Linked DNA regions of Homo sapiens. The protein of the gene in region 1 purifies or fractionates together with the protein of each later gene. This does not show direct contact. Each region holds a gene or a part of one and is shown in the gene's direction. Other genes may lie near its edges.

The links.
Region 2: the proteins of FGD5 (region 1) and SDHA purify together in Homo sapiens (affinity purification with mass spectrometry; 2 studies listed by BioGRID and IntAct, with this or other methods). This does not show direct contact.

What each region holds. Positions count from the first base shown.
Region 1 is NC_000003.12:14,814,257-14,822,132, forward strand, and holds the start of FGD5 (FYVE, RhoGEF and PH domain-containing protein 5), read left to right. Parts: upstream 1-4,815; coding exon 4,816-7,340; intron 7,341-7,876. UniProt on the Homo sapiens protein: Activates CDC42, a member of the Ras-like family of Rho- and Rac proteins, by exchanging bound GDP for free GTP. Mediates VEGF-induced CDC42 activation.
Region 2 is NC_000005.10:249,052-256,319, forward strand, and holds part of SDHA (succinate dehydrogenase [ubiquinone] flavoprotein subunit, mitochondrial), read left to right. Parts: intron 1-1,940; coding exon 1,941-2,052; intron 2,053-2,286; coding exon 2,287-2,417; intron 2,418-5,341; coding exon 5,342-5,455; intron 5,456-7,268. UniProt on the Homo sapiens protein: Flavoprotein (FP) subunit of succinate dehydrogenase (SDH) that is involved in complex II of the mitochondrial electron transport chain and is responsible for transferring electrons from succinate to ubiquinone (coenzyme Q).

The sequences.
Region 1 (7,876 bases):
GATTTAGCCTATAGTTTCGCCCTACCATACCCTAAAGCTCAGCATACCCTAAAGTTCCCTGGAATGCTCTATCCAGGTGGAGCCTATTTTTTAATTGTGAAAATCCTCCTGTCCTTCAACTTGCACTCAGTGCTCTCTCTTTTCTGGGTCTTCTCTAGGCAGAATTGCCCTTAGACCTAGATAACATGATGCTGAGGTCAGGAGCTCCATCTGGCTCCCTTTTGTGATGCGGGTGAGTAGGAGGGGACAGAGCTGGATGCTCTCATACTCTTGATTTGTTTGCACCCTCCTCATCTCTGCTGGCTGGGGCCCCCAGAGCTCCCTCCTTGGCCCTGCCCTCTTCTCTGTCCACACTCATGCCTCTGGTGATCTCAACAGGCTCCTGCCTTAAATTCCATCTCTATGATGGTGACCTCCGGCCAGACCTCTCTTCAGAAGCCAGAGCCTGCTTGACATCTCCAGCTGCTTGACATCTCCACCAGGGTGTGTAGTAGGTGACTGTGAATGGAGTTTGACCCGTGCAAACTGAAATTCTGGATTTCCCTCCCCAGCACCTGCAGTCTTTCCTGTTCCAGTTGGCAGAAACTTCAGCTTTCTAGTTGCGCAGACTCAAAACCTTGGTGTCGTTCTTGACTTTTCTCTTTCTTTTACACCCCACATTCATATGGTCAGCAGATCCCCTCAGCTCTCCCTTCCTGTTGAGAATCTGACCTCTTTTCACCTCAGCCTGGTCCAAGCCTCCATCATCTCTTGCTTGGATAATTGCAGGAGTCTCCTCACTGGTCTCCCTGCTTTCTTCCTCACCATTTCAGTTTATTTCAACACATTAGCCAGAATGTGCATGTCCCTCTGCTCAAAACCCTGCAGTGGCTTCCCACATCACTCTGAGTCAAAGCCCTGCATAATCTGCACCCTCCTATGATTCCTTTCGCCTCATCTGCTTCTCCTGCTCGATCACTCCGTCCCATCTGGCCTTGCCGGCCTCTTCGCTGTTTCTTGGATGCCAAGTGAGTCCTAGCTTTCCTCACCACTTTCGTGTCTTTGCTCACATGTCCTCTCAGTGAAGCCTATGCTGGTCACTCTATCTAAAATCGCAAAAAAAAAAAAAATACTCCTAATCATTTTGCATAGACTTTATCATCATCTAGCATATGATATGTAATGTACTTACCCTTTCTCTTGCATATCTCCCACCACCTCTCAATACAAGGTCCCTGAGTCTGGGGGCTTTGTTATACTTATTGATGTATCCAAAGAATCTAGATTAGGGCCTGGCACATAGTTGGTACTCAATAAATATGTATTTAATGGAATTAGACTAAGAGAAATTGAATGGGAGCAAATTAAAGCTAGTTGTTCACTTTTTGGTCAGTTAGTAGTTCTGAGCCCTGGACGCAGCCTTACATACATTTTTTAACTGCCCAGCTGTTTCTGGTCACCGTGGCCTTAGTTTCCCTGCATTTTACCCTTCTCTGCTTCACCAGATGCTGGGACCTCTGAGTCTCCATCATAGAGGAAACACTCTGTGGCAAAAAGGGGATGGCAGAGGGTCAGGTGACAACACTAGAAAGCCGGAAACGCAGGTTCTACCAGGGCCCTGCTCTGGACTCGCTGGGTAGCCCCACACCAGCCACTCACCCTCTCTGTGCCTTAGTTTCCTCCTCCTTCAGTGAGGGTCAGATGAAGCCTTTCTTCTTTTGGCTTGCCTTGATCTCAGAAGGGATGTGGCTGAAGCACTCTGCGCCTGGGGCTGGGAGCACAGGACAGGCGCTGAGTGTTTGCCATTCCCAGAGGCTCCTGTGGGGAAGTCATTTTCTTGCAGGATCATGCCTCAGACACCCACCATAACCTTTCCCTAGGAGACAGTGCCTTCAGATCAATAGCTTGATTGGATGAAGGATTGGGTGGGACGGGGGTGATATAGCCAAGGTGATGGTCATTTTTCATGGCCCACCTGTCCCTTTGTCCTGTCTCATGGCACCCATGTGAAATGCCCACCTGTTAAGGATAAGAAATGAGAGTCCCACCCCCAAAGAATAATTTCGTGCCAATGCCTGCCACCCAATGTTGACAGTGTGAAGCTCATATTACGCAGTGTATCAGTGTAGAGCAAGACTTCAACCAAGGGAAGATCTGGGGTAGGCAAAGATGGACTTTATCTGAACAACAGCTACTATTGAGTATTTCTATGTGAAGGCCTGCTATTGAGCCCTTTTGATATGTAGCCTTTAATTTTTAAAACAATCCATTGAGGGTAGGTGCTGTGTGGTACCCATTTTACAGATGAGGAAACTGAGGCTGAGTTTCATAGCTGATAAGTAGCAAAGTCAGGATTTGACCCAGATCAGCCAGGCTCCAAAGGCTCCCTCTGTTACCCTACTCTAACAGGTAGCTGAAGCATATCTTTTTAAGCTCCCATGTTTTGTTTTTCACTAATATGGATAGACGCTTTTCTAAACTAGGACACACGTGACTGTGTACGGAAACAAGGAGTTTGATAGTCACTATTTCTAGAAGATTCTGGGTCATTGTATGGATGTCAGTGGCTGGCCTGGGCATTGATGTGGATGAAATGGTGTGGATTAGGGGTCTGATGCAGTGGCTGTTTTAACCTTTAAACCCATTGGCACTGATACCAACTTTGGCTTCAGAAATACTGAAATTGAGGTGCCAGTGGTACAGTCCCATGGAGATGTCTAAAACCAGTTAGAGCTGTGCTGGACAGTACCGTAGCCACCAGCCGCATGTGGCTCGTGAGCAGGTAAAATGTAGCTAGTCTAAATTGAAGTGTGCTGCAAATGTAAAATGCATATTAGATTTGGGACACTTAGTATGAAAAAAGAGTGTCAAACACCTCATTAATACATTTTATATATTGATTACATATTGAAATGATAATATTTGGATATATTGAGTCCAATAAAATATATCGTTAAAATTACTTTTACTTTTTTTTGAGACGGAGTTTTGCTCTTGTCACCCAGGCGGGAGTTCAGTGGCTCAATCTTGGCTTATTGCAACCTCTGTCTCCCAGGTTTAAGTGATTCCTCTGCCTCAGCCTCCTGAGTAGCTGAGACTACAGGCGTGTGCCACCACACCCGGCTAATTTTTGTGTTTTTAGTAGAGACGGGGTTTCACCATGTTGACCAGGCTGGTCTCGAACTCCTGACCTCAAGTGATCTGCCCACCTTAGCTTCTGAAAGTGCTGGGATTACATGTGTGAGCCACTGCACCCAGCCTTACCTATTTATTTTTAATGTGCCTACAAGATAATTTAAAATTGCCTATGTAGTGATACATGTGGCTCACATTCCAGGGACAGCCCTGGATTAGAGATTAGTAATGTTAGATGTTTCAGGGACAACACTGGGCCTAACATGAGTGGGAAGAGAAGAGTTTGCTGGCAGAGATCTCCCGGCAGTCTGCTTCATCTTCCCTCCTGTTAGGAGCCAGGCTGTTATTTTGAGGCCACTTGTGTCATACCCAAGCCTTAGTGGGAATGGAGCTGGGAGATTAGACCAGGCTGAAGGAGAAACGTGGGAGTCCTAATCTATGGGTGGCAGGGATCCATGCAGTACTTTTGAAGCAGAGATGTTGGGATGGAGATGGATTCTATGCCCGCAGTATGCAAGGGAGCTTAGGGGGCCAGGCAGGTGACAAGGAAGCCAGGGAGGAGGCATGGGCAGTCTTGTAGCAGAGAGATGCTGAGCTCAAAAGTTGGCAACCACTCATTTGACCGTTCCCCTTCTCTAGATCCTTCTTATCCTGCAAATCTTAGCTAAAATATCACCTTCTTTAAGAGGTCTTCCCTGGCCACAGCAGCCCATGCTTCTCTAATTCCAGTTGCATTGTAGTCTGCACCACATCTTTTATTCTGCCATGGTCAGAAGGTCCTCAGCATCCACAGATATCCATGTGGCAAGTACATCCTTTTCCAGAGATCCATGTTGGCACGTACTATATAATTTCTCCCATGAAATTTGCATGCCCATGAAATTTGGGTGTAGGCCTGGCTGGACACAGTCCTGAAGCATGCAGATTCCAGACGTGACCCCCAGCAGAAGCACACATCACTCTTTCAAACCTTTGGCGTGTCATTCATGAAGGGATGAAATGGCAGCTATTCAGTCATAATATTCCAAGGGTCCCCGGCTCTACCCTCCAGTTGTTGTAACTCAACTGTGAGTTCTCAGCAGAGTCTGTTTTCTCTTCTTGACCCTAGGAGACCCTGCCATCTGCAGTGCTGTGCGTGTAGCTAGTGGGTACCCAATGGAGTAGCTGTAGAAGGGGGGATGTAAGCTCCATGAGGGCAGCAGGGAGGGTGACAGCAAGTTCAGCCTTTTCCCATGGTTGCTGGGTCATAGAAAGTGTTTATCAGTAGCTGCTGGATGAATGAATGCACTGACCTGGACACTTCATTTGAGGAGCACAGGATTTCATTTGGTTGATTTTCGTTAGTTGGGCTGCGTGTAGAAGAAAGGTCTGTTCACTTTGTTTACAGAATGAATCTTTAGTGGAAAATCAAGGGGTTTTAAAGATTCTGGTGGAGGGCATAAGCCTAAGACAAAGCACGGGAGGTGGGCTTCACATGGATGGACGGAACCATCTGTGGCGTCCCCTGCAACTGGTGTGTAGGAGACTCTGAATGGCAATAAAGTTAATTGTACTTTTTCTCCTTTTCTCTATTTTTGTCATCTAGATTCACCAAAACCACCTGTCGCTCCCAAGCCAAAGACTACCAGTCCACTGACGCCAGTGACCGCGCCCAAATTCCCTTCCTCAGCCAGGCCCGAGAGTCTTCACAGTCCAAACTCCATGTTCAGGGGTCCGAAGCCCCCCATTGCCCCCAAGCCCAGGCTGACTGCCCCAAACGAGTGGAGAGCCAGTGTGTACCTGAATGACAGCTTGAACAAATGCAGCAACGGGCGGCTGCCCTGTGTAGACAGGGGGCTTGATGAGGGGCCCCGGTCCATCCCAAAGTGCTCTGAGTCGGAGACCGACGAGGATTACATCGTGGTCCCCAGGGTTCCGCTGAGGGAGGATGAACCCAAGGACGAGGGCAGTGTGGGGAACAAAGCCCTGGTGTCTCCCGAGTCCTCTGCGGAAGAGGAAGAGGAGCGTGAAGAGGGAGGCGAGGCATGTGGCCTGGAGGGTACAGGAGCTGGTGAGGATTCAGTGGCCCCTGCTGCTCCGGGTGCAGGAGCGCTGAGCAGGGAGGGTGAGGAAGGCACAGACCTTGCTCTTGAGGATGAAGGGGAGGGCTGCGCTGATGAGCCAGGGACACTGGAGCAGGTGTCCAGAAGTGAGGAGGAAGAGAAGCTAGTGCAGCCACACAGGGAGTGCAGCCTGGAGGACAGTGGGCCTTGGGCTGGAGAGGGGGTCTTCCAGAGCGACCTCCTCCTGCCTCACATCCATGGAGAGGACCAGGAGCCCCCCGACACCCCCGGGGAGGCAGAGGAGGATGATGAGGAAGGCTGTGCCAGCACAGACCCAGCAGGGGCAGATGAGGGTTCGGGTCCTGACAGGCCCACGGAGGACATGGGACAGGATGCTGAGGACACCAGTGAGGAGCCCCCTGAGAAGGAGGAGCTGGCCGGGGTCCAGGAGGCAGAGACAGCCACAGACTGCCCTGAAGTTCTTGAGGAGGGATGTGAAGAGGCCACGGGTGTCACAGGTGGGGAACAGGTTGACCTCAGTGAACCACCTGACCACGAGAAGAAAACCAACCAAGAAGTGGCAGCCGCCACCCTGGAGGACCATGCACAGGATGAGTCCGCCGAGGAGAGCTGCCAGATTGTCCCTTTTGAGAATGACTGCATGGAGGACTTCGTGACTTCCCTCACAGGAAGCCCCTATGAGTTCTTCCCAACTGAGAGCACCTCTTTTTGCAGCGAGAGCTGTTCTCCTCTTTCTGAATCAGCGAAAGGTTTAGAATCAGAGCAGGCACCAAAGCTGGGGCTGCGTGCGGAGGAGAACCCCATGGTGGGGGCTTTGTGTGGCCAGTGTGGCTCCCTACAGGGTGGAGCGGCCGAGGGTCCCGCAGCCCCTGATGTGGTGGTCGTGCTGGAGGAGGAGGCCTTGGATGATGCACTGGCCAACCCCTATGTGATGGGAGTGGGCCTGCCCGGTCAGGCGGCCCCTGGAGAAGGAGGGCAGGCTGCATCGGACGCCCTGGGTGGTTATGGCTCGAAAGAAGAATTGAACTGTGAGGCAGAGGGTGGCCTGGTTCCCGCGGACAGGAAGAACACCAGCACGAGGGTCCGGCCCCACTCTGGGAAGGTGGCCGGCTATGTCCCAGAAACCGTCCCTGAAGAAACCGGACCTGAGGCGGGCTCGTCAGCCCCTGGCATTGGAGGTGCCGCAGAGGAGGTGGGAAAGACGCTTTTGTCATTGGAGGGGAAGCCCTTGGAAGCCAGCAGGGCCTTGCCAGCAAAGCCCAGGGCCTTTACTTTATACCCTCGGTCGTTCTCCGTGGAAGGCCGAGAGATTCCAGTGTCCGTGTACCAGGAGCCTGAGGGGTCAGGGTTGGATGACCACAGGATAAAGAGGAAAGAGGACAATCTCTCTCTGTCGTGTGTAATTGGCTCCTCTGGGAGTTTCTCCCAGAGAAACCACCTTCCGTCCAGCGGCACCTCCACGCCTTCTTCCATGGTCGACATCCCACCTCCTTTCGACCTGGCCTGCATCACCAAGAAGCCCATCACAAAGAGCTCTCCCTCACTCCTGATCGAGAGCGACTCCCCGGACAAGTACAAGAAGAAGAAGTCATCCTTTAAGCGCTTCCTGGCACTGACGTTTAAGAAGAAGACGGAGAACAAATTGCATGTGGATGTGAACGTGTCTTCCTCTAGGTCCTCTTCAGAGTCCAGCTACCACGGGCCTTCCAGGATTCTGGAAGTTGACCGGAGAAGCCTCAGCAACTCCCCTCAGCTTAAGTCTCGGACTGGGAAGCTCCGGGCTTCTGAATCCCCCTCCTCCCTCATCTTTTATAGAGATGGCAAGAGGAAAGGTGTCCCCTTCAGCAGGACGGTGTCCAGAGTGGAGTCCTTTGAAGACCGCTCCCGGCCGCCCTTCCTGCCCTTGCCACTGACCAAGCCACGGTCCATCTCCTTCCCCAGCGCTGACACTTCAGACTATGAGAACATTCCAGCCATGAACTCGGACTATGAGAATATCCAGATTCCACCCCGGAGACCTGCCAGGGCTGGCGCGTTCACGAAGCTGTTTGAAGATCAGAGCAGAGCCCTGTCCACAGCAAACGAAAATGATGGCTACGTGGACATGAGCAGCTTCAACGCCTTTGAGAGCAAACAGCAGAGTGCAGACCAGGACGCAGAAAGGTACCTGACATTCTATTTCCTTTCTTGTTCGGCAGCTGTAACTGTCCAGGAGGCAGCGTGGGTGTGGGGGACAGATGGACTTGCTTTCCAGCCTCAGGCTCTGTTTCTTACTAGCTGTGTTGACTTGGGGTGAGTGGCTTTATATCTCTGAGCCTCGGTTACTTCATCCGTGAAATGGGACTCATGCTACCTCATGGTAGAGAGTTTAAGAAAATCAGAGTAAGGCCGGGCGCAGTGGCTCATGCCTGTAATCCCAGCACTTTGGGAGGCCGAGGCGGGCAGGTCACAAGGTCAAGAGATCGAGACCATCCTGGTCAACATGGTGAAACCCCGTCTCTACTAAAAATACAAAAATTAGCTGGGCATGGTGGCATGCACCTGTAATCCCAGCTGCTCGGGAGGCTGAGGCAGGAGAATTGCTTGAACTCGGGAGGCGGAGGTTGCAGTGAGCTGAGATCACGCAACTGTACTCCAACCTGGCAATAGAGCGAGACTCTGTCTAAAAAAAATAAAAAAAAAAGAAAAGAAAAAGAAAA
Region 2 (7,268 bases), on another chromosome or scaffold:
AAATTGAAAGAACAGATATTTGAAGCATCCCAGCACACCTGACCTTAATGCCAGGAACTGGAGTGCTTGAAGGAGCTGCAGACAGATTAGCAGCTGGTAATCCATTAAAATGGATAAAAACACTTGGAAGCTCTGTGATTTCAATGAAGATTGTGCTTTTAATCTGTGTTATTTGTATAGTCTGCAGATGTGGATCCTGACTCTGCAAGAAGTAGCTCACCGTAACAAAGCTGCCTTTGCTTTTATCACTTTGCAAAACAAATAAAGGGGACACGTTGGGAACAGGCCCCCCAATGTGGCCATAAACTGTCCCCAAAACTGGCCATAAACAAAATCTCTGCAGCACTCTGACATGCTCTTGATGGCCATGATGCCCACGCTGGAAGGTTGTCGGTTTACTGGAATGAGGGCAAGGGACACCTGGCCCACCCAGGGTGGAAAACCGTTTAAGGCATTCTTAAACCACAAACAATAGCATGAGCGATCTGTGCCTTAAGGACATTTTCCTGCTGCAGATAACTAGCCAGAGCCCATCCTTTTGTTTCCCGTAAGGAATACTTTTAGTAAATCTTATCACTGGCTTGCTGTCAATAAATATGTGGGTAAATCTCTGTTCAAGGCTCTCAGCTCTGAAGGCTGTAAGACCCCTGATTTCCCACTTCACATGCTGTATTTCTGTGTGTGTGTCTTTAATTCCTCCAGCACCGCTGGGTTAGGGTCTCCACAACCGAGCTGGTCTCAGCAGTAAATATTGAAAAGGAATAGATACAATTGTCATTATTTACAGATAGAATTTCCAAACAATTCCCAGGGAATAAACTGAAAAACTAACAGAAACAAAACAAGAATGTAGTAAGGTGTCTGGATAAGAGATTTGTATCTAAAAATCAGTAGCTTTACAATGTGCCAGCAGTAGTCTGCTCAGACATCAGTAAATATCTCATTCACATTTCAAAAAAAATTGAAAATGCCCTGAAATAATGTAACCAGAAATACGAAAAAAAGGATATGAAAACATGTGGCTGCTAATGGACATGAAAGAATGTAATACTAGATTCTGAGATGCAATGTTTTTCATTTGTTCTTCCTGAAAAACCATTAGGTTGATGTGCATTACAGTGTTACGATTATGTATGAGTCTAAGGAAAATCAGATGAAATGTCCAAATTAAACCATGAAGGTGCATTGGTAGAGGAAGAGAAAATTAGGGTCAGTGGAGCAAAGCACAGTTAGAGGGAGAAGCAAGGAGGAGGAGGGATCACTGAGGTGGTGCCTGTCCCACAGGAAGCAAAAGCTGACGCCTAGTTCCCAGCATACCTACAGTAAACTTCAGGTCCACTGCATAGCACGTCTCTCATCACAGTAAAACTATGAAGGAACTCAGTGTACAAGGAGCTTCTACAAGATAGGCAGAAGACAGTAGCCAGATGGGCCAAGGGCCCCAGCCACCCACGCCCCTCCCTCTCCTTGAAGACGTGCAGCTCCAACACCACCATCACCAGGGCTCTGCTCAGCTCCTCCTAGTGTGTATCACCACAGGGCTGCTGGCTTGTGTCACGTTCACCACCAGACCCCGCGTCAGGAGTCCCGCCAGGGGTGTGGAGAGGCAGCGCTGCCTGGTTGGCCGTGGAGCTGTATGGAACATGGTGCCTCACAGGCAGTCTGCTTGGAGTCCTGGACCCTGGCTGTATCCTGCTGGAAAGGATGTGTGTGGGTCTAAGATGTGTATGTAATAGAAACATTTATTTATTCAGAAGCTTTAGTCAAAACTTCATTTTTAAGTTTGGAGTAATAAACTCATAGTCTGAATTTCCTAATTTTTCTGTTTAATTTATGTAACTTTTAAGTGAAATGCAAAACAACAGGTCTAAAAGTTAAGCAGTTCTTGGTATGGCTGCTTCTATGGATTAAAAGTTTACAAATAATATTTTGTGCCACAGTCAATGCAAAATCATGCTGCCGTGTTCCGTGTGGGAAGCGTGTTGCAAGAAGGTTGTGGGAAAATCAGCAAGCTCTATGGAGACCTAAAGCACCTGAAGACGTTCGACCGGGGTGAGCAGACAGTGGGCTCTGTGCACACTGTTGGGCCCTTCCTTCTGCAGGGTGGGCTGGTGTCTGTCCCGTCAGTGCTGACTTAGTTCCGTGCTTGCTGTCTGGATGGGTCCTGGCCCACAGCTATAAAGCCACAACCAGTGACTCCATGGACTAGCAGGCCCAGGCTGACAGCTCGGAGGGCCCATGTGACTGGGTCCCGCCTGCCCCTGATGGAACTTTTTGTGTCCCCAGGAATGGTCTGGAACACGGACCTGGTGGAGACCCTGGAGCTGCAGAACCTGATGCTGTGTGCGCTGCAGACCATCTACGGAGCAGAGGCACGGAAGGAGTCACGGGGCGCGCATGCCAGGGAAGACTACAAGGTGGGCCTTCTCACCACGCCCACCTGCACCTGCCTTTTCCTGCCACCTGGTGGGACTCAGCCCCACCCCTGCATTTTCTCTGCATTTTCTTTCGTTGCCCCAAAAGTAAATCCAAAAAATGCCTTTTTCCCCCCTGGTAACTTTGATCCCTGGGTTCTCGCCATCTTCTGGATCACTGTGACCTTTTCCTTGCTTTGGGTCGGCATCCACTGATGCCAGCAGTGGCATCTCCAAGCCAATGTGCTTTGCTGTTAGAAGGCCAAGGTTAGAAGTGCAGCTAGAGTGGCAAGACCAGGAAATAAATGCCAGTTTATTAAATAACGAGTAAGCCATCATTTCAAGCCTGCCCTGTGGAGGAAATGCCAGTTTATTAAATAACGAGTAAGCCACCGTTTCAAACCTGCCCTGTGGAGGAAATGCCAGTTTATTAAATAACGAGTAAGCCACCGTTTCAAACCTGCCCTGTGGAGGAAATGCCAGTTTATTAAATAACGAGTAAGCCACCGTTTCAAGCCTGCCCTGTGGAGGAAATGCCAGTTTATTAAATAACGAGTAAGCCACCGTTTCAGACCTGCCCTGTGGTGGAAATGCCAGTTTATTAAATAACGAGTAAGCCACTGTTTCAAACCTGCCCTGTGGAGGAAATGCCAGTTTATTAACGAGTAAGTCACTGTTTCAAACCTGTCCTGTGGAGGAAATGCCAGTTTATTAACGAATAAGCCACCGTTTCAAACCTGCCCTGTGAAGGAAATGCCAGTTTATTAAATAAGGAGTAAGCCACCGTTTCAAGCCTGCCCTGTGGAGGAAATGCCCGTTTATTAAATAACGAGTAAGCCACCGTTTCAAGCCTGCCCTGTGGAGGAAATGCCCGTTTATTAAATAAGGAGTAAGCCACCATTTCAAGCCTGCCCTGTGGAGGAAATGCCAGTTTATTAAATAACGAGTAAGCCACCGTTTCAAGCCTGCCCTGTGGAGGAAATGCCAGTTTATTAAATAACGAGTAAGCCACCATTTCAAACCTGCCCTGTGGAGGAAATGCCAGTTTATTAACGAGTAAGTCACCGTTTCAAACCTGCCCTGTGGAGGAAATGCCAGTTTAGTAACGAGTAAGTCACCGTTTTAAGCCTGTCCTGTGGAGGAAATGCCAGTTTATTAACGAGTAAGCCACCGTTTCAAACCTGCCCTGTGGAGGAAGTGCCAGTTTATTAAATAATGAGTAAGTCACCGTTTCAAGCCTGCCCTGTGGAGGAAATGCCAGTTTATTAAATAACGAGTAAGTCACCGTTTCATACCTGCCCTGTGGAGGAAATGCCAGTTTATTAACGAGTAAGCCACCGTTTCAGACCTGCCCTGTGGAGGAAAATGCCAGTTTATTAACAAGTAAGTCACTGTTTCAGACCTGCCCTGTGGATGAAATGCCAGTTTATTAATGAGTAAGTCACCATTTCAGACCTGCGCTGTGGAGGAAATGCCAGTTTATTAAATAAGGAGTAAGCCACCATTTCAGACCTGTCCTGTGGTTTGGAAAAGGTATTATAGAGCCTGCCCTGTGGTCACTTGTTCTTCAGATGAACTGATTTTTGTGCAGAGCGCACGTGTTGGATTCTGCCTGGTAAGAGTTTTTCCCATATGATAGCAAAAAACGACGGAAAGGGAAGCTTGGGATGCAAATGCAAGTTCAGGATAAACCACATCAGCAAAAGGACAAAGGCTCCACAAGGCAGGCGCACAGGCTGGTTCAGGACCGTGTGTAGGCGGCTGGTGGCAGCCTTTCCAGTCAGCTGAACATGGTGAATGGGAAAATCATTTTTATTCACCATGAAATTTTACTGATTTACCCTCCACTAGAATATGCTGATGGCTGTGATCACTGCTCAGAACTTGCTCTTGTCTCCTTGTATGTATTAAGAGTTTCCTGCAAAGTATATGAATCCGTGTTTGCCAGAATACAGAATAATAGTAAATTTATTATTTTTATTTTTATTTTTTTGAGAAGGAATCTCACTGTCCCCCAGGCTGGAGTGCAGTGGCGTGATCTCAGCTCACTGCAACCTCTGCCTCCCGGGTTCAAGTGATTCTCCTGCCTCAGCCTCCCAAGCAGCTGGGATTACAGACACACTGCCACCATGCCTAATTTTGTATTTTCAGTAGAGATGGGGTTTCACCATATTGGCCGGGCTGGTCTCGAACTCCTGACCTCAAGTGAACCACCCACCTCGGCCTCCCAAAGTGCTAGGGTTACAGGCATGAGCCACTGTGCCTGGCCAGTGCATAAATTTAGTTGGTCACAGTCAGTTTTAATTAGAATAGAAGCCAGGTGCAGTGCCTCACACCTGTAATCCCAGCATTTGGGAGGCTGAGGCAGGCCAATGACTTGAGCCCCAGAGTTGTAGACCAGCCTGGGCAACATGGCGAAACGTGTCTCTACAAAAACATAAAAAATGAGCCAGGTGTGGTGGTAGCACAGGAGGCTGAGGCAGGAGGATTGATTGAGCCTGGGAAGTCAAGGCTCCGGCAAGCTGTGATCACACCACTGCACTCCAGCCCAGGTGACATAGCCAGACCCTGTCTCAAAAAAAAAATTTTTTTTTAATAAAAACAGGCTGAAAGAAAAGATTGAGGTAGTCTCCCAGCACATGGAGCAAAAAGACAAAGTATTTGATAAACTCTTAGGTACATAAAGGATGCTTAAGGGAACATGCGGACATGGATTACTGTGGACTCACTGCTGGCTGCACACCCCCTGGCCAGCCATGCGGCCTCCGTGGGTTCTGAACATGTTGATGGTGCCAACCTCCTGGGCTGAAGTGGAAATGGAATGAGTTCTAGGGCATCTGTCTCTTAGATCATGTTAATGTCTGCTGTGTTTTTTCTGTATTGCTCTGTTAGAGTAATAAGAAACGTGATGGTGTTTCTGGCCTCAGGTGCGGATTGATGAGTACGATTACTCCAAGCCCATCCAGGGGCAACAGAAGAAGCCCTTTGAGGAGCACTGGAGGAAGCACACCCTGTCCTATGTGGACGTTGGCACTGGGAAGGTCAGTGTGGAGCTCGTTCTCACCACAGCCCAGCACCCACACGGCCCCGCCCAGGCCTGCGGGCTGGCCTTGCTGATGGTGAACGGGGAAGAGCAGGCCAGATTTAAATCAACTCCCGACAGATTCGAGGCACCGCTGAAAAAGGCACTCCGACAGCAGTCGGGCTTCGGGCTGGAAACAGAATCCAGTTCCTGCAGGTGGTTCAGAGGAGCCTTAAGGAAGGGTTGCTCCGTGGTGTGCGCCAGATGGACGTCACTGGGCAGGAGCAAGTGTCCAAGGCCTGGTGGTAGGGGAGGAGATGATGATTGTGGACCTAGCGAGAAAGCATCTGTGGGGTGGGGACACACAGCCATTACCAGAAACCAGTCCCACGTTAAGGGAGCCCAGAAGAGACACCTCCCCTCTCCTCCCACGGGCTGGGCCAACTGGAAGCGTCTGCAGGGGAGCTGAGGGGATGTGGTGCAGCCTTTAGCATCCCCTGGGCACTGAGCAAGCAGAGAAGGGCAGAAATGGAGGTGGGGTTGGGGTGAGCAGTGTCCTGGGAACAGCCAGCCGAGGGTGTGGTAGGGGGTCGCAGCCTTTTTCCACACACGGTGAGCAGCGTCCTGGGAACAGCCAGCCGAGGGTGTGGTAGGGGGGTCGCAGCCTTGTTCCACACAAGCACAGTTCACCTGTGTGGCATTTCCGCTGGGCATTAAGATTCAGAAATAATGAAGATAGAAAGCTTTTACCCTTAAACTTTTCATAGCTTGTAAGAGTCGTATAATCACTTAGCTGTGTCTGTGGAAGTTACCTTTGGACTCTCACTATCATCTAGTGTGTCTGTGATTCAGGCAGTAGGTCATTTTCAGGACTTCTCATGAAGGCCATTTCTTGATAGTGTATAGAAATCACACTTCACTCGCTTAGCACAAGTCTATTTTTAATGTTTCCGGGTTCGGGTTTTTTGGTTTTTTTTTGTTTTTCTGAGATAGAGTCTCATCTCTGTTGCCCAGGCTGATATGTGTTGGCTTGATCTCGTCTCACTGCAGCCTCAACCTCCCCCAGGCTCAGGTGATCCTCCCACCTCAGCTTCCTGGGCACATGGCACCATGCCTGGCTAATTTTTATATGTTTTGTAGAGATGGGGTTTCTCCACGTTGCCCAGGCTAGTCTTGAACTCCTGCGCTCAAGTGATCCACCTGTCTTGGCCTCCCAACAGGCATGAACCAACACCCCCAGCCAGTTTTAGTGATTTTTCAAGAAATACATACTCATTTTAGAAAGTACAAAGAGATTGAAATAAGAGCTCACTAACCAGAGACGACCCATTATGGTTTAAATTTCTTTGTATATGTGCCTACCTTTTCCTGTGTGTGCATATTTAATACACAGCTTGAGTATTCCTTCTCTGAAATCCTTGGGACCAGAAGCGTTGTGGATTTCAGGCTTGTTCAGACTTTGGAATATTTGCATTATACTTACTGTCTGAGCATCCCTAATCGGAAGATCTGACTCCATAGCACATTTCTTTTGAATGTCATGCTGGTGCTCAGAAAGTTTCAGATTTTAGAGAATTTCAGATTTTTGGATTAGGGATGTTCAACCTATATAAATATTTACTTTGAAGTAGAAAAACTGGAAGTAGATGGTTTAAACATAAAGTGTCTTGGTATAGACAAGGGTTCTCCCACTTTACATGATGGGAGCATTTTTGTAAAGCACTGAGAATCTTAAAGTTCACATGCCATAAATCTACTTTTATAGTTAAAATTTTTCAAAAGGAACACAAGAGATGGCTTTTTGTACATTTTTGTGCTTAACTTACCACTGA